7 linked regions of the Homo sapiens genome follow. The protein of the gene in region 2 purifies or fractionates together with the protein of the main gene of each other region. This does not show direct contact. Each region holds a gene or a part of one and is shown on either strand. Other genes may lie near its edges.

What was found.
Region 1: the proteins of RAB27A (region 2) and CHI3L1 purify together in Homo sapiens (co-immunoprecipitation; one large-scale study listed by IntAct). This does not show direct contact.
Region 3: the proteins of RAB27A (region 2) and MOCOS purify together in Homo sapiens (affinity purification with mass spectrometry; one large-scale study listed by BioGRID and IntAct). This does not show direct contact.
Region 4: the proteins of RAB27A (region 2) and RETNLB purify together in Homo sapiens (affinity purification with mass spectrometry; one large-scale study listed by BioGRID and IntAct). This does not show direct contact.
Region 5: the proteins of RAB27A (region 2) and MYO19 purify together in Homo sapiens (affinity purification with mass spectrometry; one large-scale study listed by BioGRID and IntAct). This does not show direct contact.
Region 6: the proteins of RAB27A (region 2) and MYO1C purify together in Homo sapiens (affinity purification with mass spectrometry; one large-scale study listed by BioGRID and IntAct). This does not show direct contact.
Region 7: the proteins of RAB27A (region 2) and GTPBP1 purify together in Homo sapiens (affinity purification with mass spectrometry; one large-scale study listed by BioGRID and IntAct). This does not show direct contact.

The regions. Positions count from the first base shown.
Region 1 is NC_000001.11:203,177,743-203,181,400, forward strand, and holds the end of CHI3L1 (chitinase-3-like protein 1 precursor), read right to left. Parts: exon of another isoform or gene 3,544-3,658; coding exon 3,420-3,543; intron 2,911-3,419; coding exon 2,728-2,910; intron 2,136-2,727; coding exon 2,019-2,135; coding exon of another isoform or gene 1,844-2,018; coding exon 1,703-1,843; 3' UTR 1,189-1,702; downstream 1-1,188. UniProt on the Homo sapiens protein: Carbohydrate-binding lectin with a preference for chitin. Has no chitinase activity. May play a role in tissue remodeling and in the capacity of cells to respond to and cope with changes in their environment.
Region 2 is NC_000015.10:55,234,074-55,238,594, forward strand, and holds part of RAB27A (ras-related protein Rab-27A), read right to left. Parts: intron 4,419-4,521; exon of another isoform or gene 4,330-4,418; intron 3,370-4,329; exon of another isoform or gene 2,392-3,369; intron 884-2,391; 5' UTR 862-883; coding exon 709-861; intron 1-708. UniProt on the Homo sapiens protein: Small GTPase which cycles between active GTP-bound and inactive GDP-bound states. In its active state, binds to a variety of effector proteins to regulate homeostasis of late endocytic pathway, including endosomal positioning, maturation and secretion.
Region 3 is NC_000018.10:36,266,717-36,270,317, reverse strand, and holds part of MOCOS (molybdenum cofactor sulfurase), read right to left. Parts: intron 3,570-3,601; coding exon 3,465-3,569; intron 1,786-3,464; coding exon 1,633-1,785; 3' UTR 1-1,632. UniProt on the Homo sapiens protein: Sulfurates the molybdenum cofactor. Sulfation of molybdenum is essential for xanthine dehydrogenase (XDH) and aldehyde oxidase (ADO) enzymes in which molybdenum cofactor is liganded by 1 oxygen and 1 sulfur atom in active form.
Region 4 is NC_000003.12:108,754,423-108,758,949, forward strand, and holds RETNLB (resistin-like beta isoform 1 precursor), read right to left. Parts: upstream 2,989-4,527; 5' UTR 2,764-2,988; coding exon 2,637-2,763; intron 2,167-2,636; coding exon 2,086-2,166; intron 1,484-2,085; coding exon 1,356-1,483; 3' UTR 1,216-1,355; downstream 1-1,215. UniProt on the Homo sapiens protein: Probable hormone.
Region 5 is NC_000017.11:36,513,832-36,518,352, forward strand, and holds part of MYO19 (unconventional myosin-XIX), read right to left. Parts: intron 2,160-4,521; coding exon 2,027-2,159; intron 1,352-2,026; coding exon 1,282-1,351; intron 718-1,281; coding exon 615-717; intron 1-614. UniProt on the Homo sapiens protein: Actin-based motor molecule with ATPase activity that localizes to the mitochondrion outer membrane. Motor protein that moves towards the plus-end of actin filaments. Required for mitochondrial inheritance during mitosis.
Region 6 is NC_000017.11:1,478,166-1,482,686, forward strand, and holds part of MYO1C (unconventional myosin-Ic), read right to left. Parts: intron 4,394-4,521; coding exon 4,313-4,393; intron 2,721-4,312; coding exon 2,541-2,720; intron 2,461-2,540; coding exon 2,362-2,460; intron 1,541-2,361; coding exon 1,427-1,540; intron 1,338-1,426; coding exon 1,266-1,337; intron 571-1,265; coding exon 451-570; intron 328-450; coding exon 245-327; intron 28-244; coding exon 1-27.
Region 7 is NC_000022.11:38,715,579-38,720,099, reverse strand, and holds part of GTPBP1 (GTP-binding protein 1), read right to left. Parts: intron 4,194-4,521; coding exon 4,013-4,193; intron 3,473-4,012; coding exon of another isoform or gene 3,449-3,472; coding exon 3,100-3,448; intron 1-3,099. UniProt on the Homo sapiens protein: Promotes degradation of target mRNA species. Plays a role in the regulation of circadian mRNA stability. Binds GTP and has GTPase activity.

The sequences.
Region 1 (3,658 bases), on a different chromosome or scaffold from region 2:
CAGTTGGCTGCCCACAAGGGCTTGCAGCCCTGGGGTTTCAAAGATGCCTGTGTGGTGGGGTGGGCAGTGGCAGGGATTAGGGAATACTTGGCCCCACCAGCCAGAGGTGAAATGCCGGGTACCCCCTCCCCACACCCCACTCCACGCCTTGCCGAGTCCTTGTTTTCTTCGCCTTCAGCAGGGCTGTGACCTTGGGATCAGTAGCATCTGCCCAGCTCCAGCTGGTTCAGATTTCAGATATTTCCTCCTTCCCTCCACTTCAAACCGGCGTCACAAACCATCAGGCCAATTTGTGATTATCCTAAGTCACAGATAATCCAAACATCAGAGAATCCACAAATCAATTCTCTTTAGTTCTGGGGTGAGTATCTGGAGCCTTTTTGGATAAAGGCATTCCTGGGGCCCTGGGAATTCAACAGAAGCCTGATGAGAGCGTCTCCACCTCATAAAGGCTGAAAATCTGTCTATTCTTCTGAGTCACCCCATCACATCCTCCCGACCTCCTATCTCAGGCCAGCTTGAGCAGAGGTACTTTGATCTCTGAATGGGTGGAGGGATGAGTGTTAGGGGAGGGGTGAACAGAACAAAGGGCTAAGCCCAGCACTAGGACTATTGACAGATTTCAGCCCAGCCACGGAATGGGTTGCTTCCAAGGTAATCGGCTGCCCCTCACTGGGAGGCTGGAGGGCCATCTCTCAAGCACTCTGCAGGGACTCCAGTCCCGAGAGGCAGGAAGGGTGCATGAGATGACATCTGCATTTCCTGCTGGCCCTGAGGGTCCAGGGTTCAGGGCTTTCTAACCTGGTCCTGTGATGAGCTCCCACCACCTTCCTGTGGATCAGAAGAGAGGGAGTGTTGGGATGAAAAGCCTTCTTTCCCAGGGCCTGCTAGCCTTCAGGAAACAGAAAACGTTTCTTTCAACAGGGAATTTAATTTAGAAATCTGGATGGCAATGACTTTAATATTTGGAAGGCCATCAGCCATGCTTGGGTTAAGTCCAAGGCAGGTGAATCTGAGGACGCTGGCCTCCCACTGGGGCTCTCTGCGGCTAGGCAGAGGACATGGCGGCCTCATCTCTGCAAGCTCAGGGGTCCCAAGGCTCAGAGGAAGGAACCCAGAAGAGATGGGGGAGGTGAGTCCAGTGGGTCTAGTGGGCGCTCAAAGATAGACCAAAGCAAAGCGCCAACACACTGTTAAGCTCTTGTACTTTATTGAGCAGCTGTGGAATTAGGAAGGGGAAGTAGGATAGGGGACACGATTACGTTCCTAAGTGAAGGTTTCAAGCTGGGCTTTGCAGGGGGTATAATTAGTATGGTCACTGTGTCTTGTAGGATGTTTGGCTCCTTGGTGATAGAGCTTGCCAAAATGGTGTCCTTTGATAAGGAGGGCTGGGGGGCAGGGAGTTGAAGAAATTCCCTTGCCAGGCTTGGGGATCTGTAAACATTTCCATTAATCAACAAGTGTGTACTAATCCCGAGTCTTACATTGCGATGCCTCACTATCCCCACAGCCCCATCCCTACCTCTCTGCCCACCAGGGCTGAGCTCAAATCTGTGTGTTGTGGACCTCTGCATAGGCCCCAAGGGAGGGAGACTGAGGCTCAGCCTGGGACTCAGCAGGGCAGGTGATCAGGCTCCCGGCCAGCTGGAGCCAGAGGGGGACGGGGCATCCTTGGCCCCCGTGCTGTGTGCAGAACAGAGGGCTACGTTGCAGCGAGTGCATCCTTGATGGCATTGGTGAGAGGGAAGCGCAGATCCTGGCCACAGAAGGAGCCCTGGAAGTCATCCAGGTCCAGGGCCCATACCATGGCGCCCGCCAGCTGCCTGTCCTTCAGGTACTGCACCTGGCAGGGGAGGCCCAGAGGAGCAGGGCTGGGTTCCCTGACCCAGAGTGTGTACAGGGCACATGTGCTCTGTGAGCCCAGCCCAGACCTCAGTGCAAGGGACAGGAATCTGGCTGCTGGGAGCGGGGCCTCCTTCTTTCTCTTTGTCCTGAGGTGTGGCCTTGGGGAAACCTACCTTGCTTTTGACGCTTTCCTGGTCGTCGTATCCTACCCACTGGTTGCCCTTGGTGGCATAGGGGACCTGCTGGCCGAGGATTCTATGGACTGTGGCTCCGCGGAGGAAGTCACAGATCTGAGCAGATAACAGGGAAAAGGCAGTGTGGGGAGTCGTGCCGAGACCTTGCAGGTCACCAGGAGACGCCACTCTCCAAATCTCTTTTAGCTCCTGCTCCATCCTGCAGCCTCACTCTCTGCAGGGTCTGCAGGCTGCATGCATCACACAAGTTTATACAAACCAGAGGCAAATGACCCAGAGATGGTGGCTGCCTTGGCCCTGCTTAGCTTCTTCCATTTAAACAGAGATGTGAGGCCTGCTGGTTGACACTGAGGACAGGCCCAAGGCCACACAGAGTAGCAGAGGCTAGAGTGAAACAAAAAATCTGCCTCTTGACCTCTGCTCTTTCCTGGGCTGGAAGGAAGACCTCAGCCCCATAGCCAGAGGGCTATCCCAGGTGCCTAGTGGTGCAGGCCCATGTGCCTGTACCTGCTGGAGATTTTCAGCAACAAATGTCCTAACCTCTCCCTTCCACTTCCTCAGGCATGCTGGGGCAACCGGACATTTTCTTTATTCCCAAAGGAGAAAAAGCAAGAACGTGGTGGGGAATCACCTTCCCCAGGGCTGCTGGTGGTGTGGGGGAATCCTACCTTCTCCCCAACTCCATTACCTCATAGTAGGCAAGGGTCCCTGCCTCCTTGGTGAACCGGCCTGGAATTCCCGGTCCTGAGATTGGGGCTCCAACACCAGTCTCAGAAGAAGCCAGAGTGAAGCTCCTCCCGAAGGTGGGGATGCCCATCACCAGCTTACTGGCAGGAGCCCCCAGCCTCAACATGTACCCCACAGCATAGTCCTGGGTGGGGTAGGGTGGGAACAACGTGAGCAGTTAGTGCACAGGTGCGGAAGGTTGAGCAATTAATACTGCTGCCTTAGCAGGGGTTATTGGTGTATGGTGCACTGGGGATTCCCCTGTCCCTCCGGGAACGGATCATGTCACTTTAAAGTGAATTTTACAGTTTCATTCTTGAAAAAAATCCTTTGAGGCATAGGAAGGGGCTATTACTATTTGACAGATGCAGAAATCAGGTGGTTGGCTCTGAGGGCACAATGACTCCTACCTCCTCGGCTCCCAGCCTCTCCCCATTCGGCCCCCTGCCCTCACTCCATTTACCCTGCAGATCACCTTCCCAGAGCAACGCAGCATGCCCAGACTTTGGGCCTCAGTTTCCTTATCTGTGGAATGGGCCTCATGACCCCCCTCTTGCAGGACTGTACTGAGGGCTAGAGAGATTGGTGTGTGAGCACTGGCAGATGGCAGGTCTTGCGGCCCCCTCCTGGCCCTCCCTCCTTCTGGGAACTCACAGTGTTGCTGAATCTGTCAGGACTTGCATCCTCCTGACCTCGGAACAGGGGACTGTGATGGCCTGTGGTCCCACGCCAGGCTCCATGAAAATCGTAGGTCATGATGCTAATGAAATCCAGGTGTCTGAGGAGGAAGGGGATGGAGGGTGAGGCAGGAAATTATTAATAGAAAAGCTTTAGGCCGGGCGTGGTGGCTCATACCTGGAATCCCAGCACTTTGGGAGGCCGAGGCAGGTGGA
Region 2 (4,521 bases):
ATTAATTTCCTGACAACTGGTTTACCTGCTTCAGGCCAACAATGGATTTTTCAACAAGAAATGTAGTCTAAGGAGAAAGCCATCTTTCCTCATCTGCAACTGTGACACCATGACCTTCTGCCTTCCCCTCCAACACTAGAATAACTTTCAGTCTCAAAGTCCTTAAAAAATAAATAAATAAAAGTTTCTCCCTTCAACATTCTGCAGAACATCACATTCACTACTGGCATTCCCCACTCCTACTCCAACCTCACCCTCCTGGCAGCAGTGATAAGTTCTGCCAGTTAGTGTTCCATGTGGAACTGCTGAGACTTTATTAGGAGAAATGCCATTAAAAATAATAAGATACCAAAGGTGGAAGACACAGCCCATAAAACAAGAGTATGAGGGGCAAGGTGGTTGGCAGGCTTCAAGACAAAGGTAGACAAATAACTTTCGGAGTTCAGAGGGAAGATACAAGCCAAAAGAGTACCAAGGTGACATTTTAAAGAACTGTCCACTTCCACTTTGTCTGCCTGGTTTTATATGAAGTGCTGTCAGCACAGCCTTTTCAATCATGTTGCCTGGATTGAACATAACTCACTTTCATATGTACCTTTAATTTCAGATCCCAACCTTTGTCCTCCTAATTCCTACAAAGTAAACTAAACAGACCAGCAAATGTTGACTTAACGATTACATTTTTACATAGAAGGATATAGAACTTACCACTCTTTTTTCCCTGAAATCAATGCCCACTGTTGTGATAAATTTGGAGTTAAATTTACCATCTGTATATTGGTAAAGTACACTGGTCTTCCCTACACCAGAGTCTCCCAAAGCTAAAAACTTGATGAGGTAATCATAATCTCCATCAGACATAATGAAGAACTCAGTAGTTCACCTGTAAAATACACACAAAATTTTTTAATTAAAATCCATTAGAAAACATTAATTATCCATTTAAAAAGTGACAACAATATTCAGTTTAACACCTAATGTTAACCTGTATGTCTACGGGTTGTATGAAAAGAGAGTTACATACATATTGTTCACCATCCTTGAAGACCTAATAACTAGCTAGATGAGAAGCTATTGAAATAGTAATTAACAGTGTAGTTTTAATTTAACACACAGGTAATCCCAGCACTTTGGGAGGCCAAGGTGGGCAGATCACCTAAGGTTGGGAATTCGAGACCAGCCTGACCAACATGGAGAAACCCCATCTCTACTGAAAATACAAAAATTAGCCAGGCATGGTGGTGCATGCCTATAATCCCAGCTACTCAGGAGGCTGAGGCAGGAGAATCACTTGAACCTGGGAGGTGGAGGTTGCAGTGAGCCAAGATTGCGCCATTGCACTCCAGCCTGGGCAACAAGAGCAAAACTCTGTCTCAAAATAAAAAAATAAATAAAAATAAAAATAAAAATAAAAACATACATATTATAGTACCATTAGGACAAAAATTTCAAGTGGGAATGATAATCAACAAGAAGGTAACAGTCACTAAGTCTTATCTGTAGACCATATAGAACAAAAACTAATACAAGAAAAACAGAGGAAAGAGAATGTTATAAGGAATAACAGTAATCATTAGAGTGCAAGTGGTTCCAATTTCCCCTCCTTTTTCAAAGTCTCCTAGTGCTAAAATTTGCAATTGCAAACATAAGGAACCAGTCCAAATGCTCACCAGTCAATGAGTAGATAAAGAAATTGTGGTACACCACAATTTTTTTATCTGTATATATATACACACACCACGGAATACTACTCAGCCACAAAAAGGAACGAAATAATGGCATTCACAGCAATCTGGATGGAATTGAAGACAATTATTCTAAGTGAAGTAAGTCAGGAATGGAAAACCAAACATCATATGTTCTCACTCATATGTAGGAGTGAAGCTATGAGGAAGCAAAGGCATAAGAATGATACAATGGACTTTGGGGACTCGGGTGGAAAGGGTGGGAGGCGGGTGAGGGATAAAAGACTACAGATTGAATACAGTGTACACTGCTTGGGTGATGGGTGCACCAAAATCTCAGAAATCACCACTAAAGAACTTATCCATGTAACTAAACACCACCTGTTCCCCAAAAACCTATGGAAATAAAAAAAAAAGAAAGAAAGAAAGTCTCCTAGTGCTAGAACCTTGCCTTTTCTCTCTTTTTACATGGACATCTAGGCAATTTCATTTATTCTATTCATTTTCACATGTTATTACGGTTCCTTCAAAGACACTGTTATTTCACAAGTAAATTTAGTCCCTGCTTCCTTACATATTACTATTAATATGTACTACATATTAAGCCAGACTTCTCTAGAGTATCACTGCTCACTTGGGAACTGAGTTCCAGATTTGAACAGTCACTGCTCAGAGACCACAGTGCCACAACCAAGGGCTCGCTTACCTATGTTTACCTGGGTACTCTATCAAGAACTGCTAAAAATTCAGCTCTTCAGTACCGACTAAAACAAAAGTCCACCTTAAAGAAGAAAAATTCATTTATATCAGCAATACCTAACCACGGCTATTTTTGGTTCTTTGCAATCAGCACTTTTCATGATTTGTATTTACCTTCTAAATAGATTCAAACCCAAAATATCAGTCCAACTAGAAATGGGATCTCTCTCCAGGGGAGGTTTACTTTTTCATTAAAATTTTATTGATACATAATATTTGTATATTTTTATGGGGTACATGTAATATTTTGTTACATGCATAGAATGTAATGATCACATGAAGGTATTTAGGGTATTTATTTCCTCGAGTATTTATCATTTCTATGCATTGAGAACATTTCAAGTCCTCTCTTCTAGCTATTTTAAAATACACAATACATTTTTGTTAACTATAGTCACCCTAGTCTACTGTTGAACATTAGAACTTATTCTTTCCATCTAACCATATGCTTGTACACATTAACCAACCTCTCTCCGTTTCCCCCGCCAATGCCAATAAACTCTCCTGAAAATCATAAAAACAACTAGCTATCTCATTAACACTGACGACTCTACATGACTATTCAAACATACATATTTATCCATCTATACACATGCCAGATGTCCTACATTGGATGCTACTGACTCCCGGCGTTATCCCCTTTTTACCCAGCACCATATCCAGAAACTTGGCTGCCATATTCAGTGCTTCCTGTAGGACTATTTCTATATATCCATAAAATTAATAAAAACTCAGACAAGAATATTTACTGGTTTTCAGTGTTACCTCCCTCACCCCATCCTCAACTTGGGGACTCACCTTATGCTGAAAACTCCTGAATGCTGAGCCCCAAAAGCCACTGCAGTGTGTTTCCTCAGAGTGCTTCAGTGCAGATCTGCAACCTCACGTTTCAGGTATGGCTAGCCCGTGGATAAGGGCAGAGCCTCTACAAACATTCAAAATTCTATTTGCACACTATAAAGAGTGACACTTCACAGATGATGCCTTACCTGTCTTTATAGCTTGGATATTTGCAAGTATAGGTCACCAGTATTAATGACATATAACAGAATTCCTCTCCAAAAAACGACAACTTGGACATCAACATTATAGCACGTCATATCACAGCATCACACCTGGCTCTAAGTTATTGGAAATAAGAGCTAAGAATTGAAAAGCAAGTCCAGATAATGTTGACTCATTTGAGGGCTTCCCCTCAAACTGAATGGAGCAGCAGATAACAATACCGATCCTGCAGTGAGAATGATGCAAGAAGACACTGTGACTACCTTATTTCCTATTTATTTTTAATTTGAAAAAAAAGTTGGTATAACTATGTTTTTTACATCACTTAGGGTACAGGAAAAAATGCTGTCACCAATGGCATCATATTCTAGAATTCTCTAAACTCACTTAAGTGGAATTCAAAGACTTAAATGAAACTATCTCTAATGTGTTTCATTTCCATGGGTAATCACACATGTAAGTCTACAAATGATCTTCGTGAGTTTTGTTTTCTATTCACAATAGCAATACTGACCAAGTAATCATAAAGGGACTGTTAACAAACCAAATACCATAAATTGAAGGTATAGACACCACCATCAATATTAATCATAGTTTGCACTTTTCAGATTGTATCTTTAAGACAATTATCTGCTTTCTTGATCTGAAAATAAATGTTCAGACCTTCCACTCTCTGGGTTCAGTTTTCTAAAGGGTAAAACAGAACCCAGAGAGGTAGACTGATTTGCACGATCTAGAATCTAGATCTCCTAGCTCCAAGTCCAATGCCTATTCTACCCCAAGCTTCATATCCATTATTCATTTTTGTTATAAATGCACATTGGGCTTTAAAGTGACCAGTAGTATGGTATCTTACAAGGTAACCTAATAGGAAACTCACCAAGTCAAGCAGAGCTGGGTTTGAATCCCAAATCTCCCAGATACCAATTACTTGGATGTCTTTGAGCCTTAGATTTCCAGGTTTCTGTTCTATAAAAAAGAATATACACTACCTCACACCATTATTCTGAGGATTCAATGAGATACTGTTTATGGAGTGCCCAGCACAATGGTTGGCATATACTGGGTACTT
Region 3 (3,601 bases), on a different chromosome or scaffold from region 2:
CCTCCTGCATGAAACTGGCCTGAGTAGGTGGATAAATCCATTACTTTAGGGCATTGTTCTCCTATCAGTTAGCTGATGAGGACAAGTCCACTCATATGATGTGGCAGTGCTGAGTCTTTGAAGAGGTTGCGTTTTTAATAAACAGTTCAAAACAATAAACCCCACCCCACCCCACCTAACTTCATTTGCCTCTTCTTTCGGTGATCTCAGGAACCAGAGTCAGAGTTGTACTTTTTACCCTTAACTCTTCACAGCACGTGAGTGTGCAATCATTAGGCTCCATCTCAACAATCCTTGAGAACAGAGCACACCTCATCTTTCAAATCTCACCTAGTGCTGGGAACAACACAAAGTCCTACAAATGTGATAATGAAACAAACTGACCCTGAATCCCACAGGCTCTGAACAGATACATTAGGGAAGCCTGAGCCTGGAGCCTGCTCTCCAACTGAGCAGCAGGAGAGATGGGGTGGCACAGGCTTTCAAAAGATGCAGTGGGCTGCAGCAGGCAGACATTTGGGGGAGAAGTGACTGGAAAAATACAACCATCCAGGGGGAAGATGATGAAGGGACTGGGTTCACACATGGACAGCAGGCTTCAGAAGGACGCCAGCAGAATGAATGTGGAGTGGATGTACTCACTCTGCATTGCTCCAGAGGACAGGGTAAGACCCCAGGCTGGAAGTCATGCAGAAGCAGATAAGGCACACACAAGCTCCGCACAGGGAGAAACTTCTTAGAAACTCAGCGGGATGGGTAACTTCATTAGAGAATGAGATTTCCTCACTGGACATTTTCATCTGGAGGCTGCAGGAGCAGTGGTCAAAGATGATACAGACAGGATTCCTGAATGCCAAAGTTCCTCCCTCGATAGGATTTGGAGGCTCTCGGGTGATGGACCAACACCATCCTGTGGGCTTGTGGAGGGGAGGATGACAACCTGCATAAGCACAGCCATCACTGAGTGTAACTTCAGGCTCGTGAGCCATCCTCAGTGCATCAACTCAGTGGGGGATGAGGACGGAGGCCAGGGATGGGAAGCAACAGGAAAGGAATTGCTGGCCTGTGCCTTTGCTCAGAATATAAATATTCTGGTAGAAACTCCCCTCAAGGAATGTGGTCACAAGTTACCCTCTGGGCCCCTGAGCATAAACCCACACCATCATGTACATGGGAGGAGAGGAGCACCTTCTCATACCCAGGATCACTGGGCATAGACTCCCTTCCTCACTACAAACGGGTTGGAGAGATCCAAAGATGCTCTCTAAAAACAAAGTAACAATGTGAGAAAATGGCAAAATAGGGACCCGCAGTAAGTTCAATCTTCCCAGTGAACTTCATTAAAAATTTCATCTGATTACAAGTGATTATACTTCAAATACCTACAGGAGCCTCACTGGATGTGGGTGCAGCATTCGTTCCTGAGGCCTCAGAAGTGCTCTCCTGAGCACAGCCAGTGCAAATTTGCAGGGTGAGAAGTCAAAGGCAGAAGGAAGCAGGTGAGAGCATTCCCTGCCTCTAAAGAAAAAGAGCTCTCCTTATTCAAAACATCAAGTTCTACTGAACCAAGTTGCAGATCTTAACAATAATAGAGATCACTGTAAAAGAGAAACTTTATGCTAAAAATTTTTTTTAGGAGGTAACATCCTGGTGTTTCTCAGATGCAGGTAAATCATGACCTTCCACATTCTCTTTCAACACAGGGAGCACCTGAGATCCTACAGACAGGAAACATGGGGAGGATAAATCCAATGATGCATGCATCAGGTACATGCCAAAGTTCACCTGTGAACAAAACAGCAACAACAACAAAAAAGGCTAGATTATTTTAGCAATTAAAATAACTTTGTAAATATTAATGTTTAACTAAAATCAAGTCAGATTTTTAAAGACATATACTGAGACTTGATATCTCCTATCTGTTACACAGTAGAATGCACTGGAACATTAAGAGAATCCTAACTTTAGACCCCAAAGATTCTCATTCTAAGGCATCCTTTCCCTGTGGTCACCCCACACCTCTTTCTTGCTGGGCACATCTCTGTCCCACATGCCCTGAACTTCCTGCAGAAGGACTTTCTTCCTACTCTCAGCTTGTGACCACCATCAGGCCCATTTCCTGTTTGCTGCCTGATGTAAAAGCCTTTTGGGGAAGACAGTGGCAGAACTCTGCATTTTCCTTGAGAAAGAATGATGCAAGTTAATTTTGTCAAATTCTCCTGAATAAGGATGGAAGGTCCAAAATGAAGAGTAGGTAAGTCTGCTCAATGTTAACCATCAATGCAAGTGAACCACTCAGGACCCTTTGGAGGACTTGACATGCTCTCCGATCTGTTAGTTCTTGTGATAACATCTGTTGGACACCCTCATGTTCCAGGCCCCAGGCTAGGGGATTGGGCCAATTCCTCATGATTTGTACAAATGTGGGTGAAAAGTGCAGCCTCTGCACTCTCACTGCAACTGTTCCGTAAATCTAAAATTATTCCAAAATTTAAAAATAAAAGGTTCATCATGCACATGAAAATTGCAGTGATGCTGAGAAACACTATTTTCATGGACCTTAGTATTGTATTTGTGCCTTCTTCTTTCTTCTCCTGGCAACCTGCATGGTGCAGGCTCAAGGTCCCCACACCCCAGACAACACAGCCTGCATTGACAGACATGCTGCTGTAACAGTCAAATGCACTACTCTGCAGGCCATTTCTATCCCATATTGGTAAGAAAACTTACATAAATCAAATGTCTATACTGTGAAACAAAACCCTGGCTTTGAAGAAACACAGGAAACAATGTAGCACATTTTACCATGAATTAACTTGCCAGCTTATTATTGGAAGTAGATACAGTGTTTGCATTATTTCTGTTAATTTTCAAGAATTGTTCTATGTAGCCTGACTGCTTTTCTTGGCTTCCTGGAATTCTTTGAAAACAAAAAGTCCTAACAGAAAGTATAAGCCTGAAAATAAATCTTTCTAAAGAATCAACACATTGGAAGTTCAGTTTCTATAATCTGGAATTCATAACAACACTTTGTTGTTTTAACCCTCAAGAAAATGAATTTCCAGGCTTAATGAATGTATTTCCAGTTTAATGAAATGTACTGACTCTTTCTATGCAGCTACTCTATTCACATTAAGGCACTTTACTCTTCATGAGCTCTCTGTGTTAAAGAAAATAATGATCAAGACAACAGAATTACTTGTTTTTTTTGTACTCCATATCTCTTCAACAAGATTGGAAAGCATAAAAATACATGAAGTAAAACAAAAAAAAGTGAGAACTTGGATGGAAAGGAAAAATAAAATGAAACTACAAACAAGGATAGGTTAATGGCAGCCCAACAGCTTTGGATGGGCAGCAAATCCCCCATTTAAAAAAATAACTCTGTGCTATTATGAACATAGTTCTGGTATTGATAACACCAGGATTGGAAACCAGGTGTCATATTTTGCAATCACGCTTACCTTTGTTTCACGACTCTCAGAAAGTTTTTGGAAAACATGCTGGTTTCGTTGCCCAGTTTGCTGGTCGATGCAAATCATCTGGCATCTGTGACAAGGCCCCAAAACCTGGCAGGTGAGAAGGAAAACACAGCGTTGCC
Region 4 (4,527 bases), on a different chromosome or scaffold from region 2:
AACTAAAGAGCTTCTGCACAGCAAAAGAAACTACCATCAGAGTGAACAGGCAACCTACAACATGGGAGAAAATTTTCACAACCTACTCATCTGACAAAGGGCTAATATCCAGAATCTACAATGAACTCAAACAAATTTACAAGAAAAAAACAAACAACCCCATCAAAAAGTGGGCAAAGGACATGAACAGACACTTCTCAAAAGAAGACATTTATGCAGCCAAAAAACACATGAAGAAATGCTCATCATCACTGGCCATCAGAGAAATGCAACTCAAAACCACAGTGAGATATCATCTCACACCAGTTAGAATGGCAATCATTAAAAAGTCAGGAAACAACAGGTGCTGGAGAGGATGTGGAGAAATAGGAACACTTTTACACTGTTGGTGGGACTGTAAACTAGTTCAACCATTGTGGAAGTCAGTGTGGCGATTCCTCAGGGATCTAGAACTAGAAATACCATTTGACCCAGCCATCCCATTACTGGGTATATACCCAAAGGACTATAAATCATGCTGCTATAAAGACACATGCACACGTATGTTTATTGCGGCACTATTCACAATAGCAAAGACTTGGAACCAACCCAAATGTCCAACAATGATAGACTGGATTAAGAAAATGTGGCACATATACACCATGGAATACTATGCAGCCATAAAAAATGATGAGTTCATGTCCTTTGTAGGGACATGGATGAAATTGGAAACCATCATTCTCAGTAAACTATCGCAAGAACAAAAAACCAAACACCGCATATTCTCACTCATAGGTGGGAATTGAACAATGAGATCACGTGGACACAGGAAGGGGAATATCACACTCTGGGGACTGTGGTGGGGTCGGGGGATGGGGGAGGGATAGCATTGGGAGATATACCTAATGCTAGATGACACGTTAGTGGGTGCAGCGCACCAGCATGGCACATGTATACATATGTAACTAACCTGCACAATGTGCACATGTACCCTAAAACTTAGAGTATAATAAAAAAAAAAAAAATGAAAAAAAAGAAAAAAATAAATAAATAAATAAATAAAAATGAGGGAAGTGGGGGTTTGGAGTGTCAGTTTGTTTTTCCCATTCTTCCCATATCTTTCCTAACTTCCCATCCCACTTCCCAAACTGAGATGTCACCACTGGGACACTGACAACATTTTCTGGATAGGGGAGCCCCAAGCTGGGGACAATAACAGAGATGACATAAGCACAGAGAGGTACAAAGTTTGTCTTTATTACCCAAGAATCAGGAATGGAACAAATGAAGTGGGACGTTTGAGTTAGATTTCTTGGTTGGGACCCTGGTTTCATTACTGTCATGGTCACAAAACTGAGTTCTCAGCCTCCTCCCTGTCAGGTCAGGTGGCAGCAGCGGGCAGTGGTCCAGTCCACCACACTGCACTGGCAGTGGCAGGTGGTTTCCAGCTGAACATCCCACGAACCACAGCCATAGCCACAAGCACAGCCAGTGACAGCCATCCCTGCATGAGCACATGAAGCACAGACATCAGAGCTCTTGGAATTTAAGAGGAGGAAGGGCTACCCACAACCATCTTTCAACCCTGTGCAGTCAGGGGTAGAGCTAGGTTTCGTGGGGCCTCAAGCTCATTCAATTTTGCGAGCTCATTTCAAGAAAAGAAATACAGAAATCACAGAAACAAATATTTGCTGCCATGAAAGAGACTCATGCAAGTGAGAGACTTGGAACTTGGGAGTTTCAGTTTTCTTCGATTTGTGATAAATTCACCTCTCTGTTGGCCCCTACCCATCAAAACAGAGGAATAGATTGGAAAGAGAAATGAAGTATGTGATCATTATGGGACAATGGAGGAGAGGAAGGGCTGAGAAACAGGGGCATGAAGTGAAGGGGTGAAAGGAAGAGGCAGAAGCCCAAGATCCCCCAGTAGCATCCTTCAGGGAAACAAGAATGGGCAAGGGGTCTCTGGGAACCAAGAGTCATGACTCAGCCCCAGGGTGCCAGGGTGATACAGACCTGACATGGGGGAAGACGTAGGTGCAGGGAGATGGACAGGGGAGGATACAGGGCATCGTAGTCGCCATTCCCTCTCAGGGAGTTACTCACCAGCAGGGCAGGAGGACGGTCTGCCTTGGCTTTTGACACTAGCACACGAGAGCTTCTTGCTTATAGGAGAGGGACTGTACTCTGAGTAGGAAAGAAGAAAGGGTACATCCCATGAGCTATCCTCCCCATAATCCCCTTATCCCCTTCCAAATTGTCTTCTACCTTGGAGGTGACACTGTGTCCAGAATCAGCCTACTCATCAGCTTTTAAGGTTAGTTTCCTCATTTTTAAAGCAGAAGTAATAGTTGTCCTTACCTCATAAAATGGTTGTGGGAATTAAATGAAATAATCTACGTAAAACTTGGATTATACCTGGTTCATAATGAGTGTTCATAAATTACAGCTACCATTCTCCTCCACCTCTTCCTCCTCATCAGGAAAACCTCAGCTTTTAGCCAAGACTTCAAACACGGGTAGGGTAGTGTAGAAAGCCCTCATCAGGGGTTGGGCTTGGTTGGGATCTTGGGATGGGATAGAGACAAAGCTAGAGTTTAAGAACAGGAGAAATGAGCAAGGGTCAACCCCCCGCTTCCCCTACCCCAGTCAGTTACCTAGACTGTTGAGAACATCCTTGATCTTCTTATCCATAACGGAGTCTAAGGAACACTGAGTACTCCCCGGGTTGATCAGCTGGAGAAGGGGGATTAGGATGAGAAGGAGGCAAGAGGACGGCCCCATCCTGTACAGAGTCAGTGTCCTGGGGCTGGGAGAAAAGATGGAAAGCAGCTTAGATCTCTGAGCTCCTGGGTGGTGGTGAAGGAAAGAAGACAACGTGGTTAGTTTCCAGGGAGTAAAGATGGAAGAACAGCGTCATCAGTACTGGATCTCTTTAGGCAGTTTGGAGAAGCAGGTAGGGTTGCTGAAGAACAGATTTATTCACCAAAACATTCAGAGAAGGTCTACAAGGACTAGCCAGGCAAGGGCGTTTTAATACACCTGGTATTAACCTGGGCACCTTTAACATACAAGCACACACAAACATGTAAACACACTCCCAGCACACTTTCAAAGACCTGTGCCAGCTAGGGTAACAGGTGACTGTGATAAACTTTGGAGTGTTCATGAGAAGCAACAGCTGCCTTTGCTCTGGATCTCTGCCAAGGGAGTCCTCCTGCCTTTTTGTTCTCCTTCTCCTTTCTTCTTGGCAACCCGATAAGGCTAGCACCTGGGCCTTCTGTGGTCTGCCGGTATTATAGGCTTCTTGTTTGATCCTTCATCAGGAAGAGGTTACTTTGCAGTTAACAAACAAATTAATCCACCCATCATCTATCCCAAACCCAAGTGTATGCTCTTTCTTATCTCTGTTGGCTGAGGGAGGGCCCTACTTGTCACCTGTTCAGACACCATTTTATTGTCCCTGGCCAATCTCATTTGGAGGAAAGTCACAGAAAGACTAATTAATCCTGGATTAAAAATAAGGAAGTTCAGTATTTACTTAACTAGAAGCATGGTTTATGATTCCAGAGTTCTTTTGGGGGCTCATAAAGTTTCCCTTTTTCCCCCACCATTCTCAGCTAATCTTTCGATCTTGTCTCCTCATGGTCACAAGGTAGAAGGTGCCACATCCTCAGCCCAGACCCTGAGCAGGAAGGAAGGAGTGGGGCAAGGCCACTTTCTGTAGGGGCTTTACCTTTTTATTTTAAGAGCAAGATCTTTCTCTAGAAGCTCAAGAAGATTTCCCCTTACATTCCACTGTTTGGTTCTGGGTCACACAACCTCCCTTTCTATCAGCTATGGCTGAAAAAGAGAGCTGGGCTTCACAATTCCTTATCCAAGACCTGGGGCCCAGGTATGTTTCAGAACTCAGAATGTTTCAGATTATGGAAGGTGCAAATTCTGTATATTATGTTAAACCACCAAGGAGGTTGGGGGCAGCACTCTGCAGTCTAATGCATAAATAGCCTGATGCAAAATGTATGAATATTAATGTGGGATAAATAAAAGACCATAAAGAGCCTCACACCAGGCCATGCCAAGTTTTTCTGCCAAATGAGTTAGCCTCAAATTTAGGACAGAACATTTTCATCTTTAGAGCCTTTTAGATTTTAGAATAATGGATAAGGGATTGAGGACTTTGAGGATTCACATATGGCCAAGAGGAATGAGGATGCCATGATTCCTCATCTAGGATGGGGCATGTGGCCACCATGAATAAATAAAATTTAAAGAAGTGCAGATGAAGAAGCAGAGAAAGGGGCCATGTGTTGTGGCTCATGCCCATAATTCCAATACTTTGATAGGCTGAGGCAGGAGGGTCTCTTGAGCACAAGAGTTCAAGACCAGCCTGGGCAACATAGTGAGACTCTATCAAAAAAAAAAAATTTACTGGGAGTGGTACCATGCATTTGTGGTCCCGGCTACTTAGGAGACTGAGGCAGGAGGATCACTTGAGCCTCAAGGTTGCAGTGAGCTGAGATTGTTTCACTGCACTCCAGCCTGGAT
Region 5 (4,521 bases), on a different chromosome or scaffold from region 2:
CAAGGCTCAGAGGTCCCTTCCGAGAGCCCACGGCAGGTATGGGGGCAAAAGATGCCGTAAACATAGCCCTGGATGTCTCCAACCTGATGCAAAAGAACCTTGCTCTAGGGAAACCTGCAGTCTGGTGAAAAAAGGACAACTCCTGCCCAGGGAGTCCGTCGTCTTGACGTGGGAGGCATACCCATCACCTAAGGATGCTCCGATTTTGAGAGAAAGGGAGATATCCTATCCATGCCTTGGGGGACTCCCAGTCCGATGGAAAAGGCACAACTCTAGGGAAGCCCTTGTTCTGTTAGCGACAGATGCCATTCTAGGAGAGCCCTTAAAATGATAAGAGTGACACGGCTTCCACCCTAGAGATACAGTCCCAGCCTCAAGGACCTTCTGGTCTGATGGAGGAGGTAAAACATACTCCCAGGCCACAACTGTGCTGGGAGCCAAGGCGCAGTGTGAGGCAGAAGTGCTGCATGTAAAGTCTGCAGGATAAAGTGGTGGCTCCATCAAAAGCTAGGTGAAGGAACCAGGTATGGAGCATTCTGGGGAGTGGGGGGTTGAAAAACACGGACCCATCCCTGTCTCGCATCTGGGGGGCTGTGGCCCCATTTGGCACAAACCTGATAGAAGATGTGGAAGTTCCTCTCACTGGAAGCCTGGCAGGCCACTCGAGTTTTCTCTAGGAGGTAGGTCTGGACTGCGGCTCCAGTCATTTGCTGAGCCCTGGGACACACACAGGCCAGAGCCCGTTAGTTGCCCATTCATTCCATAGCCATGTCTGGCAATCTGGGTGTGCCAGATTGCCTGCTACCTGGCAACTCCCCGCCAAGCTCTTCCACTTAGCCAATGGGCACTGAGGGGTGGGGACCACTCAGAATGTCCTTGGGTGTCCTGGAATATTCCCCTGCATCTAGCTCAGGTGGGCAGGGCCAAGGCCTCTGCACATCACTTTGCTCTACCCCAAGACAGGAGTCGAAGTCTCAGCCTCAAGCTCAGGGATATGGTCCAAAGAGGTGGCAATTTAGCTTGAAGTCCCTGAGCAAGAGTAAAAGCCAGGAGGAACCCAGGCCTGAATAAGCGCACTGCCCCAGGGTTCCCCAAGGGGAGAGGAGCTATAGTTCTCCAGGTGCAAAGATCACCCTCAGAGCTCACACCTGAGGTAAAGGGCATGCACCAGGAGGAGCAGGGTTTTTGCCCATAGGGGTGGCCCAGGCCAGATACTGCCCCAGCCACTTTCAACCTCCCCAGTCCCATCCTCCCACTAGCCAGGGCAACAGCAGCTATTACCTGTTCAGCTGGAGCTGGATGAACTTCCCAAAGCGACTGCTGTTGTTATTCCTCAGTGTACACGCATTCCCTACAGATCACACCTATGTTTATTTCACTCCCCTGGGTTTGCAGAGTCCTCATAAGCCAAGGTGGCTGCAGGTCTCTGGAGGTCATGTTCCCGTGCTCAAGTCACCTAAAGGCCCCTTTGTTGGTTTTCATGTCATAGGGGACAGGACTAGAAAATGGGCCCTCATGCTTTAGCAAGTGGGATTCAGGGGAGTTAGAAGAAATTCCTGGCAAGAAATTGGAATGAGCAAGCCTAGGCAGTCAGGGACCTTTCTTTGAAGGGAAAGGTCAAAAACAATCAGCTGTCACTACTGACTTTAGACAGGAAGGCACATCTGGGTTCCAGTGCCAACACAAACACTAATCACCTTGTATCCCTTAACAAGTACCCTTCATTGAACCATCAGGAAACTGGATAGAAAGACAGAATTTGGACGAGCTAAGCCACCAGGTCTTCTCCAGCACGACTGTTATGTGTGCCTAGGCTGGAGCGAGGAAGAGGACTGAATGACATGACCTCTGTTAGAATGATGCTAAGGAGTACCAGGGAGAGGTTGGGGATCTGAGGCAGTGAAGGATACACTCATCCTCCACCCCCACCCAAGAGAGGGTCTCAAAGCACTGTCCCTCTCCCTGGAAGGTGGAAAATCCCAGAGGAAATGGGACTGAGATACTGTGCAAAGGAGCCCAAGCTCACCAAAAGCTTCCATGACAGGGTTGGAGTTCAGGATCCTCTGTTCTATCCTCTCTGCAATCTTGTGGCTCTCCCAAGATGCAGGTGAGGTGGCCACCACAGCATAGAACTTCATTAGGCAGCGAGACGTCCATGTCTGTGGCAGAAACAGCCCTGTGGGAGCTGTATCTATGCTCCCGCCCACTTCTGAGCCTGCCTGAGAGAACAGTGCCCACCAGAGCTCTCTTCTCCACCAGTGTGTTGCTGACAAAATGGGTGAAGGCAGAATTCAACCCTGGCCTCAGGCAAGGCACTTCCTCTACCTCTGTTTGTAAAATGGGAGTAGACATCTGTTTCTCTCAGCTCTGTGGCAGACACTGAGCTATCGAGGCTTTCTGTGTATGTTTTTTTTGCAAACTCTGCAAAGGTGTGATTATACAATTGTTTATAAACAATAAAACCAAAGCATAGAAATTTAAAAATTTATTAAAAATCATGCATCTACTCAATGACAGGGCTCCCATTTATACCCAAGCAGTCTAACTTTTTTTTTCCGAGACGGAGTCTCATCTTGCCTCCCAGGCTGGAGTGCAATGGCACAATCTCAACTCTCTGCAACCTCTGCCTCCTGAGTTCAAGCGATTCTCCTGCCTCAGCCTCCCAAGTAGCTAGGATTACAGGCGCACGCCACCACGCCTGGCTAATTTTTTACATCTTTAGTAAAGACGGGGTTTCACCATGTTGGTGAGTCTGGTCTTGAGCTCCTGACCTCGTAATCTGCCCACCTTGGCCTCCCAAAGTGGGATTACAGGTGTGAGCCACCGCACCTGGCCCCAAGCAGTCTAATTTTAATTCATACTCTTGTTCTTAATCAGCTGAAGTGAGGTATACTTTCATTTTAACTTCTAATTGTTTGTGGCTAGGACATAGAAATACACTGTCTTTACATATTGACCTTGTATCCTATCACCTCACTAAACGCTCTACAACTTTTTAGTTGCAGTAAGGTGGCAACTTACTTTGTAGATTCTTTAGATTTTTCTTTGGGATCAGAGATATTTCTATCTTCTGAAAGACTTTATGTAGAACTGGTAACATTTCTTCCTTAAATGTTTGGTAGAATTCACAAGTGAAGCCACCAGGGCCTACAGCTTTCTCTGTGGGAGGGCTTTTAACTATGACTTCAATTTCTTTCAGAAATAGGGGCTATTCAGGTTCTTTTTCTTCTTGTGTGATCTTCAGCAGTTTGCGTTTCTCAAAATATTTCTCCATTTCATCTAAATTGTATAATTTCTTGGCATAAAGTTATTCAAAATATTATCTTAATCTGTAAGATCTATATTGATGTCTACTCCTTCATTCCTGATACTGGTGATTTACATCTTTTTTCTCTTTTTATAAGTCTGACTGGAGAGTTATCATTTTTTTGTTTGTTTGTCTTCTTTAGAGGCAAAGTCTTGCTGTCACCCAGGATGGAGTGCAGTGGCACGATCTCGGCTCACTGCAACCTCTGCCTCCGGGGTTCAAGTGATTCTCCTGCCTCAGCCTCCTGAGGAGCTGGGACTACAGGCGCTCGCCACCATGCCCAGCTAATTTTTGTATTTTTAGTAGAGACGGGCTTTCACCATGTTGGTCAGGCTGGTCTCTAACTTCTGACCTCAGGTGATCCACCCACCTTGGCCTCCCAAAGTGCTGGATTACAGGCGTGAGCCACTGCACCCAGTGAGTTATCATTTTATTCATCTTTTCAGAGAAAAGTCTTTTATTTCATTAATTTTTCTATTTTATTCATCTTTACTTTTTCCCTTCTTCTGCATACTTTGGGTTTATTCTGTTCCCCTCTAGCTTCTTAAGGTATGCCACAGACTGAATTGTGTTCCCCTCAAATTCATATTTTGAAGCCCTCACTCCCAATGTGACTGCATTTGGAGAAGGGATCTTCGGGAGGTAATTAAGATTAAATAAGGTAATGACGCCAGGTGCGGTGGCTCACGCCTGTAATCCCAGCACTTTGGGAGGCTGAGGTGGGTGGATTGCCTGAGTTCAGCAGTTCAAAACCAGCCTTGACCAACATGGTGAAACCCTGTCTCTACTAAAAATACAAAACTTATCTGGGTGTCATGGCATCCACCTGTAATTCCAGCTACTAGGGAGACTGAGGCAGGAGAATCGCTTGAACCCGGGAGGCGCAGGTTGCAGTGAGCTGAGCTCGCACCGTTGCACTCCAGCCTGGGCAACAATAGCGAAACTATCTCAAAAAAAAAAAAAAAGAGGTAATGAAGATGTTGTGCTTTCATTTTAATTTATTAGTTCAAAATATTTTCTAATACCGACTTGGTAATGAAATTTCAGACAAGGCTGGACACAGTGGCTCACGCCTGGAATCCCAGCAATTTGGGAAGCTGAGGCGAGCTGATCACTTGAGGCCAGGAGTTTGATACCAGCCTGGCCACCATAGTGAAACTATAACGTCTCTACTAAAAATACATAGTCTCTACTAAAAATACAAAAATTAGCCA
Region 6 (4,521 bases), on a different chromosome or scaffold from region 2:
CAGTAATTGATGCAGAACTGCTCAAAGCTGTAAGGAAGGAGAAGAGCCCACAGTGGCTCAGTGGGGACACAGGACCAGGAGAGGGGAAAAGCTGGACGACGCCCCTGAGCACAGGAGGTGAGAAACACAGAGACAGTCCCCGGCTGGCTGGGGAGTCACAGGGCAGGAATGAGAGGCTGGAGGACAGAAGAGAGGGAGCAGGACAGGAGACCGGGAGGAGAGACGGGGGAAAGATGGCACCGACCTGTTATGCTGAAACACTTCAAAGCCATAAATATCCAGGAGCCCGAGAACCGTGGTGCTCCGCCAGCTGGGGCTCTCCACGTCCTAGGGCAGTCATTCAACCGAAGGCGTGGGCCCCCTGCGCGTGCCAGCCCCACCCTGCAGCACCCCCCGCCTCGCCGACGGCCCTCCCTTCTGCCTTGGGAGCAGTGTGGACCGAGCCCTCACCTTGGAGGCCAGCGACCTGTTGATCTTCCCGACGAGCCAGGTAAAAGTGCGGCTGTACACAGCCTTGGCGAGGGCGTCTCGTGCGTACGCGGCCTGCTCCAGGTTCAGCGGGCTCAGGAGCTGTGGACGCAGCGTGAGACAAGGAGATGAATGCCACAGAGCCTGTGCATCCCACCTGCTCCCAGGCTCAGGCAGACCAGGAAGCCGCCACCACTCTGCACTCCCAGCTCCAGCAAGCCTGCAGTATGGGGAGGGGTGCTGGTAGTGGGACCTCAGGGAGGACAGGTGGCCACCCCAGAGGGAAGGTGGTAGAGGGACAGGAGGCCTCCTTCCCGAGGTGGGAGTCTGGTTCTAGCCGGACTGTTACTCTCTTCCTATGTGACCCTGGCCAGCTCACTGTGCTGCTTCTTTTTTTTGAGACAGAGTCTAGCTCTGTTGCCGTGATCTCGGCTCACTGCAACCTCCACCTCCCGGGTTCAAGCGATTCTCCTGCCTCAGCCTCCCGAGTAGCTGGGATTACAGGCGCCCGCCACCATGCCCGGCTAATTTTTGTATTCTTAGTAGATGGGGTTTCACCATGTTGGCCAAGATGGTCTCGAACTCCTGACCTCAGGTGACCTGCCCACCTCAGCCTCCCCAAGTGCTGGGGTTACAGGCGTGAGCCACGGCGCTCGGCTCTCACTCTGCTTCTCTGAGCAGCCTTCCTTCCATCCCTCCAGCATTGCTGAGGGAACCAGGCGAAGGGGAGTGATGGGAGTAGGGGCTGCCTTGGAACAGCTGCCCCTCCACACCCGAGGGCAAGGGCCCGGCCTCACCTCCTCCCCCTTGGCGATGATCTTCCTGTGTGTCAGGGCTTCTCGCAGCGTCGAGCCTTCCACGCTGAGGAGCTGCCAAGGGCAGGCGAGGACACGGTGAGGGTGCACCCCCAGCCCCCGCCCCCGCCGTCCTCCCGTCGCCCTCTGCCCGCCCCACTCACCCTGGTCAGATACTTGAGCTGGTTCTCGGTGGTGACCTGGGCATTGCTCTCCTCGTTGGCAGCAAAGTGGATGTTGCCCAAATGAAGGACGCTGGCCACGATGCTCAGCAGGTCCTGGGGGAGCAGGCCGGGGGCAGGAGGGGGTGAGAGGGGCCAGAGAGCCCCAAGAGGGCAACTAGCAGATGGCCATGCAGGGGTGGGTGGTGAAGTGTCGGAGAGAAGGGGCTGGAAGTGGGAATGGGTGTTAAAGGTGGAAGGTGATTCTGCGGGTGGGATGGGCACGGTGGCTGACGCCTGTAATCCCAGCACTTTGGGAGGCTGAGGCGGGAGGATCATCTGAGGTCAGGAGTTCGAGACCAGCCCAGCCAACATGGCAAAACCCCATCATTATTAAAAATACAAAAATTAGCCAGGTGTGGTGGCAGGTGTCTGTAATCCCAACTACTCAGGAGGCTGAGGCATGAGAATCACTTTAACCTGGAGGCAGAGGTTGCAGTGAACTGAGATCGCACCACTGCACTCCAGCCTGGGCGAAAGAGCGAGACTCCATCTCAAAAAAAAAAAAAAAAAAAAAAAAGGGATTACTGGCCCACGCCTGTAATCCCAGCACTTTGAGAGGCTGAGGCAGGCGGATCACCTGAGGTCGGGAGTTCGAGACCAGGCTGGCCAACATGGTGAAACTCCGTCTCTACTAAAACTACAAAAAATTAGCTGGGCGTGGTGGCGGGCGCCTGTAATCCCAGCTACTCGGGAGGCTGAGGCAGGAGAATTGCTTGAACCCAGGAGGCGGAGGTTGCAGTGAGCTGAGATTGCACCACTGCACTCCAGCCTGGGCAACAAGAATGAAACTCCGTCTCAAAAAATAAAAAACAAAAAAAAAAGGAGATTTTGGGGGTGTGACAGGAGGAAAGCGAGGGTCCCGGAAGAGGCCTCACCTCCACTTCATCCTCGGTGAAATCAATGACTGTCAGAGCCTTCCTGACGACCTTCCAGTCACTCTTGTCGTTGATGGAGGAGACTTTGGCACACTGGCCCTGGAGGAAGGGCACAGCTGGGTTGCCAGCCCTGGCACCAGATCCCTGGGTGGCACCTGCCCTCCCTGCCAGCCACTCACCTTCACCAGGTACAGGTAGCTCTGGGGGTTCCGTTCCAAGCCCAGCCTGCGAAGAGTCTCCTCCTCGCCCCCCTCCAGCAGCTGGTAGAAGATGTGGAAGTTCCGCTCCCCATGATTCTGGTGCACCACTCGTGACTTTTCCAGGAGGTAACTGAGGATGTGGCCACCCACGGGGGCACCCTGTGGGCAGGGCAGGGCATGAGGCCGGGTCACGGGGACTGGGAAAAGAGCCCACCTGCCCCTCTTCTCCCCTGCACTCCTGGGCTTTGGCAGCCAGACCTGGATGCCAATTCCAGCCCTGCCACTAGCTGCGTCGGCTCAGGCACGCCACCCACGCTGGACTCAGTTACTTCATCTAGGAAATGGGGAGATTCAACTCCAACGACCTGGCTGCTCCACCTGGATGCCTGACAGGTATCGCAAATTCAACAGGCCTGAAGCTCAACACCGGACCTTCTCCCTCTTCAAACAAGCTCCTGTTAGTGTCTGCCCTCCTTGGTCAGTGGTGACTACATCCTTCTCGTTGTTCAAGCCAAGGACTTGGCAGTCCTCCTGGAAGCCTGTGTTTCTCCAAACCCTACATCCAATCAGGCAGCTCATCCTGCTGCCTTAACCTTTAAAACATCCAGAATCCAATCACTGCTCGCCACTTCCACTGCACCACACTGGTCTGAGCCAATGTCACCTGTCACCTACATGATGACATCAGCCCCCTAACCGTTTTCCCTGCTTAGCCTGGTTCCCCTCCCATCTATTCGTCTACTCCCAATCTCCCAGTGAAGCAGCTAAAGTCATTTTTTTATTTTTTATTTTTGGAGACAGGGTCTTGCTTTCACCCAGGCTGGAGTGCAGTAGTGCAATCACAGTTCACTGCACCCTCGAACTCCCGGGTTCAAGCAATTCTCCTGCCTCAGCCTCCTGAGTAGCTGGGACAACAGGCACACACCACCGTGCCTGGCTAATTTTTGTATTTTCAGTAGAGGCAGGGTTTCACCATGTTGGCCAGGCTGGTCTTGAACTCCCGACCTCACGTGATCCACCTGCCCCAACCTCCCAAAGTGCTCAGATTACAGGCATGAGCCACCTCACCCAGCCCGATGACTCCCCTTCTACTCAGAGTTAAAAAAAAAAAAAAAAAGTTCTTGCAACAACCCAAAAGGGCCTGCACCGTTTGGCCTCTCTCTGTTCGCGGGCCCCTGCTCTCTTCTCTGGCCGCTGTGGCCTCCGTGCTGTCCTGGAACACTTCCAGCACCCTCGTATCTCAGGCCTTTGTCCTGGCTGTTCCGTTCCCGCTGCCTGGACAGGCACCTGCACAGCCTGCTCCTATCTCCATCAAGCCATTATTTTCTATTTTTTTTAGAGACAGGGTCTCACTCCGTAGCCCAAGCTGGAGTACAGTGGCATGATCATAGCTTAGGGTAACCTTGGACTCCTGGCCTCAAGTGATCCTCCTGCCTCAGCCTCCAGAGGAGCTGGGACAACAGACATGTGCCACCCTACCCAGCTGTCAAGCCTTTATTAAAATGCCACTTTCTCAGTGAGGCCTACCCTAATACGACCGCACCTGCCCCCCACTCCTTACTGCATTTTATTTTCTGCCACGGCCTCAATTTCCCTGTTTATTGTTTATCACCCTGGAAGGCAGGATTTTTGTTTGCTTTGTTTGACTGCTGGAATTGCAGCACCTGGAATAGTCCCTGGTACCCAGTAGGTGCTTCACACGTGTAGAGCCTACTGAATGGGAATCCTCACGACACACACATCCATGGTACCTTGAAGTCAAACTGCACATCCATGTACTTCCCGAACCTGCTGGAGTTATCGTTCCGGAGGGTCTTGGCATTTCCAAAGGCCTAGGAGTGGACAGGGGTATGAGGGACACCTGGCACTCTCCCCCTGCCCTCCCCACCCCGCCTTGTAGCTACTGCTGCCCCTCCCCTCCCGCACTGGGCTTCTCTCCCTGCCCCTCCCCTCCCCTCCC
Region 7 (4,521 bases), on a different chromosome or scaffold from region 2:
AAAATTAGCTGGGCATCGTGGCGGGCGCCTGTAGTCCCAGCTACTTGGGAGGCTGAGGCAGAAGAATGGCATGAACCCGGGAGGCAGAGCTTGCAGTGAGCTGAGATCGCGCCACTGCACTCCAGCCTGGGCGACAGAGCGAGACTCCGTCTCAAAAAAAAAAAAAAAAAGAAAGAAAGAAAATAAAAGGCAGTGGGGGATAACTGGTGACTGATTCATGGCTTAAAAAAAGCAGCTGAAAGATATTTGGGAAACATCTGAAATAATATAAATACAGACTAAATATTTGAGGATATTAGGTAACTATTCTTCATTTTCTTGATTGTAAAAACAGTAGGAGACAGGCCTCACTTTTAGGAGCTGTATGCTGAAGTGTTTAGCAGTGAAAAGTCACAATGTCTACATTGTGACTTTGTCTGGGATGAAGACATGTCCACTATTTTTAAGTGATTCAGCCACAAAAAAAAAAAACCAAACTAAACATATATACTTGGCTGGGCACGGTGGCTCACACCTGTAATCCCAGCACCTTGGGAGGCACCAAGGTGGGATGATTACTTCAAGCCAAGAGTTTTGAGACCAGCCTTGGCAACATAGCAAGATCTCGTCTCTAAAAAAATTAGTATTAGCCAGGCATGGTTGTGCACGCCTGTGGTCCTAGGTACTTGGGAGGCTGAGATGGGAGGATCCCTTGAGCCCAGGAGTTTGAGGTTATAGTGAACTACAGTCGCACCACCGCACTCTAGCCTGGGTAACAGAGTGAGGCTTTGTCTCTTTAAAAAATATTAAATCAGGCTGGGTACGGTGGCTCACGCCTATAATCTCAGCACTTTGGGAGGCCAAGGTGGGCAGATTGCTGGAGGTCAGGAGTTCCAGACCAGCCTAGCCAACATAGTGAAACCTCGTCTCTACTAAAAATACTAAAAATTAGCTGGGTGTGGTGGCACGTGCCTGTAATCCCAGCTACTCGGGAAGCTGAGACAGGAGAATCATTTGAACCCAAGAGGCGGAGGCTGAAGTGAACTGAGATTGCACAACTGCACTCCAGTCTGGGCGAAAGAGCAAGACTCCATCTCAAAAAAAAAATTAAAATAAATAAAAAACATATATACACATATGTACCCACCATATAGACACATAAATATGGCAAAATGTTAATGATTGCTAAATCTAAGTGGTGGATTTATGGTATTGGTTATACTATTCTTTCACCTTTTCTGAATGTTTAAAATTGGAGGGAGAGAACATATACACATTTGCTGATCTGAGTACAAAATATCTCTGGCAGGTACACAGGAAACTGGAAACACTGGTTGCCTCTGGGAGGAAACTTTTCACAATTTTGTACCATACTAAACCAGAAGAAAATTTGAAAGAAAAGCTGCCATGATGTGTTTACACAGTGCCCTATCCATTCCAGTGTGTCACGGAGACGCCCACTGAGTTTCCATGGCTCCTAGATGAGTCACCCCAGCTGGCACTTCCCTCTCCCTCCACCAGGACACTTCCACAGTCTTCCCGACGTCTTCCTGTGCCCTTCGGCCACCTTTCCAACCCAATGCAGACTTGCTTTTGCTCTTCCCAACCTGGAGAAGAGAGTGCTCTACGGCTGTTTTCTATATATTTTAAATATTTTTTCCTAGAAGTCAAATGCCATGGGACTATAATGAAATATTTCATTGTTTTCTACAGAAAGGTTAACATTTGGATCACAACCAAAAAGTCAGATAATATATATGTAACATTTTGTCCAGGGTGAAGATATTTCCATTAATTGGTCTTACTCACTGTAGCTCAGCTGGAAAAATGCTTATTCTCAACCAGTTTCTATACCCTTCTTAATATCAACCCAACAACTCCCCTAAATACGCCCTCTGGATCTTCCACTAAGATCCCTTCCTGGCAAGCAGCTTTCCTCAGCCCAGTCAAGAAGCTGGTCATGGCCCTTTGCAACATTGAAGGAAATGGGAAATGAAGGCATGCTGAGGTCCCAAAAGCCTCAGGCAGAGAGCCTACGAGTGTTCACACGGCTCTGCCTCTCTTTACTGCTCTCCAGTTTAGGGAGAATTTGCTTGAGAACCTGTGTTTGTGCAGCAACTTGATCAAGTTTGCTATGAACAGATGCTTATGTTTACTACATTTATTAATACAGGCAGCTGAAGGAATCGAGAAATGGGGAAGGGTTTTGGGAAGGCCTTGCCGAGGGAACACTCGAGGCATGTGTGTCTCTGACTCTGTCCCTTCCCGCCCTCCCTCTTCCTTACTCCTGCTGTGAAAGCTGTGGAGATGTGCACAAGGTTACAGGCCTTGCCGCTCCCCTCAGCACTCCCACTGTCTGTCCAGGGAGGAAGATCAGTGGGTCACAAAGGCAAGCTTAGCAATGAGATCCAACACAGAGCCCTCTGCTCCCTTTCTTTCTCAGTTAATCTATTAGATGAGCTGCTTAAACACTTTTTGGTTGTTTTTAATGTTCCGAGCAGGAATAGCTGCTTAAAAATTTAATCACGCTCGACCCTAAGCTTTTTGGGAGCCTCTGGACAGCCCTGTTCATTGCTGTATCATCAGACCTCACATAGTACCAGACACACAGGAGCCTCTCAACAAGGGCTGTGCACTGGCCGATCCTCCTCCCAGGCTCCAGGAGGCCACCTCTCAGGGCCTCTCGACTGTGGCCTGTGCCTCCTATGGCTGTCTTCTCCGTTTCTTCCCCAGGCCTGCCCCTCTGAAGGTACTACCTACCTGGTGTCACCTCCTCAAAGTAGCCCAATCCTCTGCAGAAAACATTTCTGAAGGTAACAAGTAAGGCCCAGGAGAAACCCTCCTCTATGCCTCTGCAAAAAATAAGACAGGTCTTCAAGGGTACCTGGTTTTTACCAAGAGGATACCTTCCCTAGTCTAATGTAAGGGAGAGATCAAGGTTCAAGCCTTGAGAAGACCATTACTCAGAGGACTGGGCACCCCTGCAAAACTCGCCAGCCTCACCCGATGTCAAAGCCCCAAACCAACAGGCCTCAGTCTCAGAACAGTTTCAGACTTGCACATAACCAGACCCAAGCAGCCCTGCTGACGCCTCCCCTCCTTGGGGCGCCTCCCACTCACCATGAGCATGCAGAAGTCAGGCAGATGGCCTGTCATGCCGAAGACAGTGGTTTTCAGGTACTTCTCATGACCAGCCAAGTCGATGAAGGTAATGACTTTCGTGGACTTCTCACAGATCTTGGTCCACTCCAGGCTGCCGCCGTGGCTGTCAGGCTTGTTCACTACATTGCCTTCACTGTCAAAGCCCAGAATGTCGTTGCCCACACTGCTGGTGCGACCAGATTCAATTTCATGTTTGTGGCGGAAGAGTTTCTGGCGGGCAAAGCCTCGGCCATTGTCCAGCTCCCCATGTGTCAGGACCCCCAGAAGCGTGCTTTTGCCAGCATCCACGTTGCCCACCACTGCTACCCTGCGTGTAGATGAACCCATACATCTATGTGAGAGTTAGTGAATGAGTGAGGTGGAGCGACCATCATAACCCCAGTAATTGGATCCGCAAGTCCAGGCTTGCCCCGATCCCCTCCGGCTCACAGCTCCTCCTTGAGCCGGAGGAGCACAGTGGGAAGGTTCCTAGAGCTGCTGCTGTAGAGTCATCAGAAGGGCCCAGACTCCCACAGCGGCTATCTCCCTTAACTCCCACTAGCTTCTGGGTGCTGCCAGGAAGAGCCGCAAGGCTACCAGAGGCACAAAAGGCTCTTCTCCATGACCCTGGTTTCCAGGCTCACAGGCTGAAGGGAAAAGAAACACACCCACAGAGAATGGCCACAGAATGCACGGCTGGCCTCTCTCGTGCTCTTCCCAAAGTGACAGGGAAGTGCAGAATTAGAGCAAGGAGCCCACGTCTCCAGACACCTGGACACTCTTTCCCCGCCTCAGGAGGGGAAAGGATGGAGCTGACACGCCAAGTGCCACAGGCTCAGTCACCAACCTCTGTGAAGAATGGGGACCCCAAAATGTCCCGCGGCCTCCTCACCTGACCTCCAGGAAGTCATTGTCTCCTACTCGTTTCCGGACCAGGTAATCACGCACGCGGCCCCCAGCTTCTTGCCGTTCCCGCAGAAGGATGACATCGGCCTCTATCTGTTCCGCCATGCTCTTCACTGTGGCGTAGGAGGCCTCCATGTCAGCTTCACTCAGCCCATACTCAGTCCCATCTGGTGACAAGAGCCCAGACATCAGCAGGAGAGGGAGTCCTGACCAACCAGCCTGCCAACCAGCCAGCCAGGAACCCCACCTAACAAAGGCCACCACCCCCCGACCCCAGCACTGCAGAGGAACAGGGGTCCTCTCTACCTGAGAGAAAACCTGGGCACACACCAAGTTAAAACATGACAGTGCCACAGACCTCTCCATCAAGCAGAGCATTCGCTACTTCATTCAACAACAGCCACCGAGGCTCTCCCAGGTTTTATGCCAAGCCTCATGCTGGGTACTAGGACTACAGGTGCCCCTAGTGAGCTCACAGCCCAGTGGGGGAGGCAG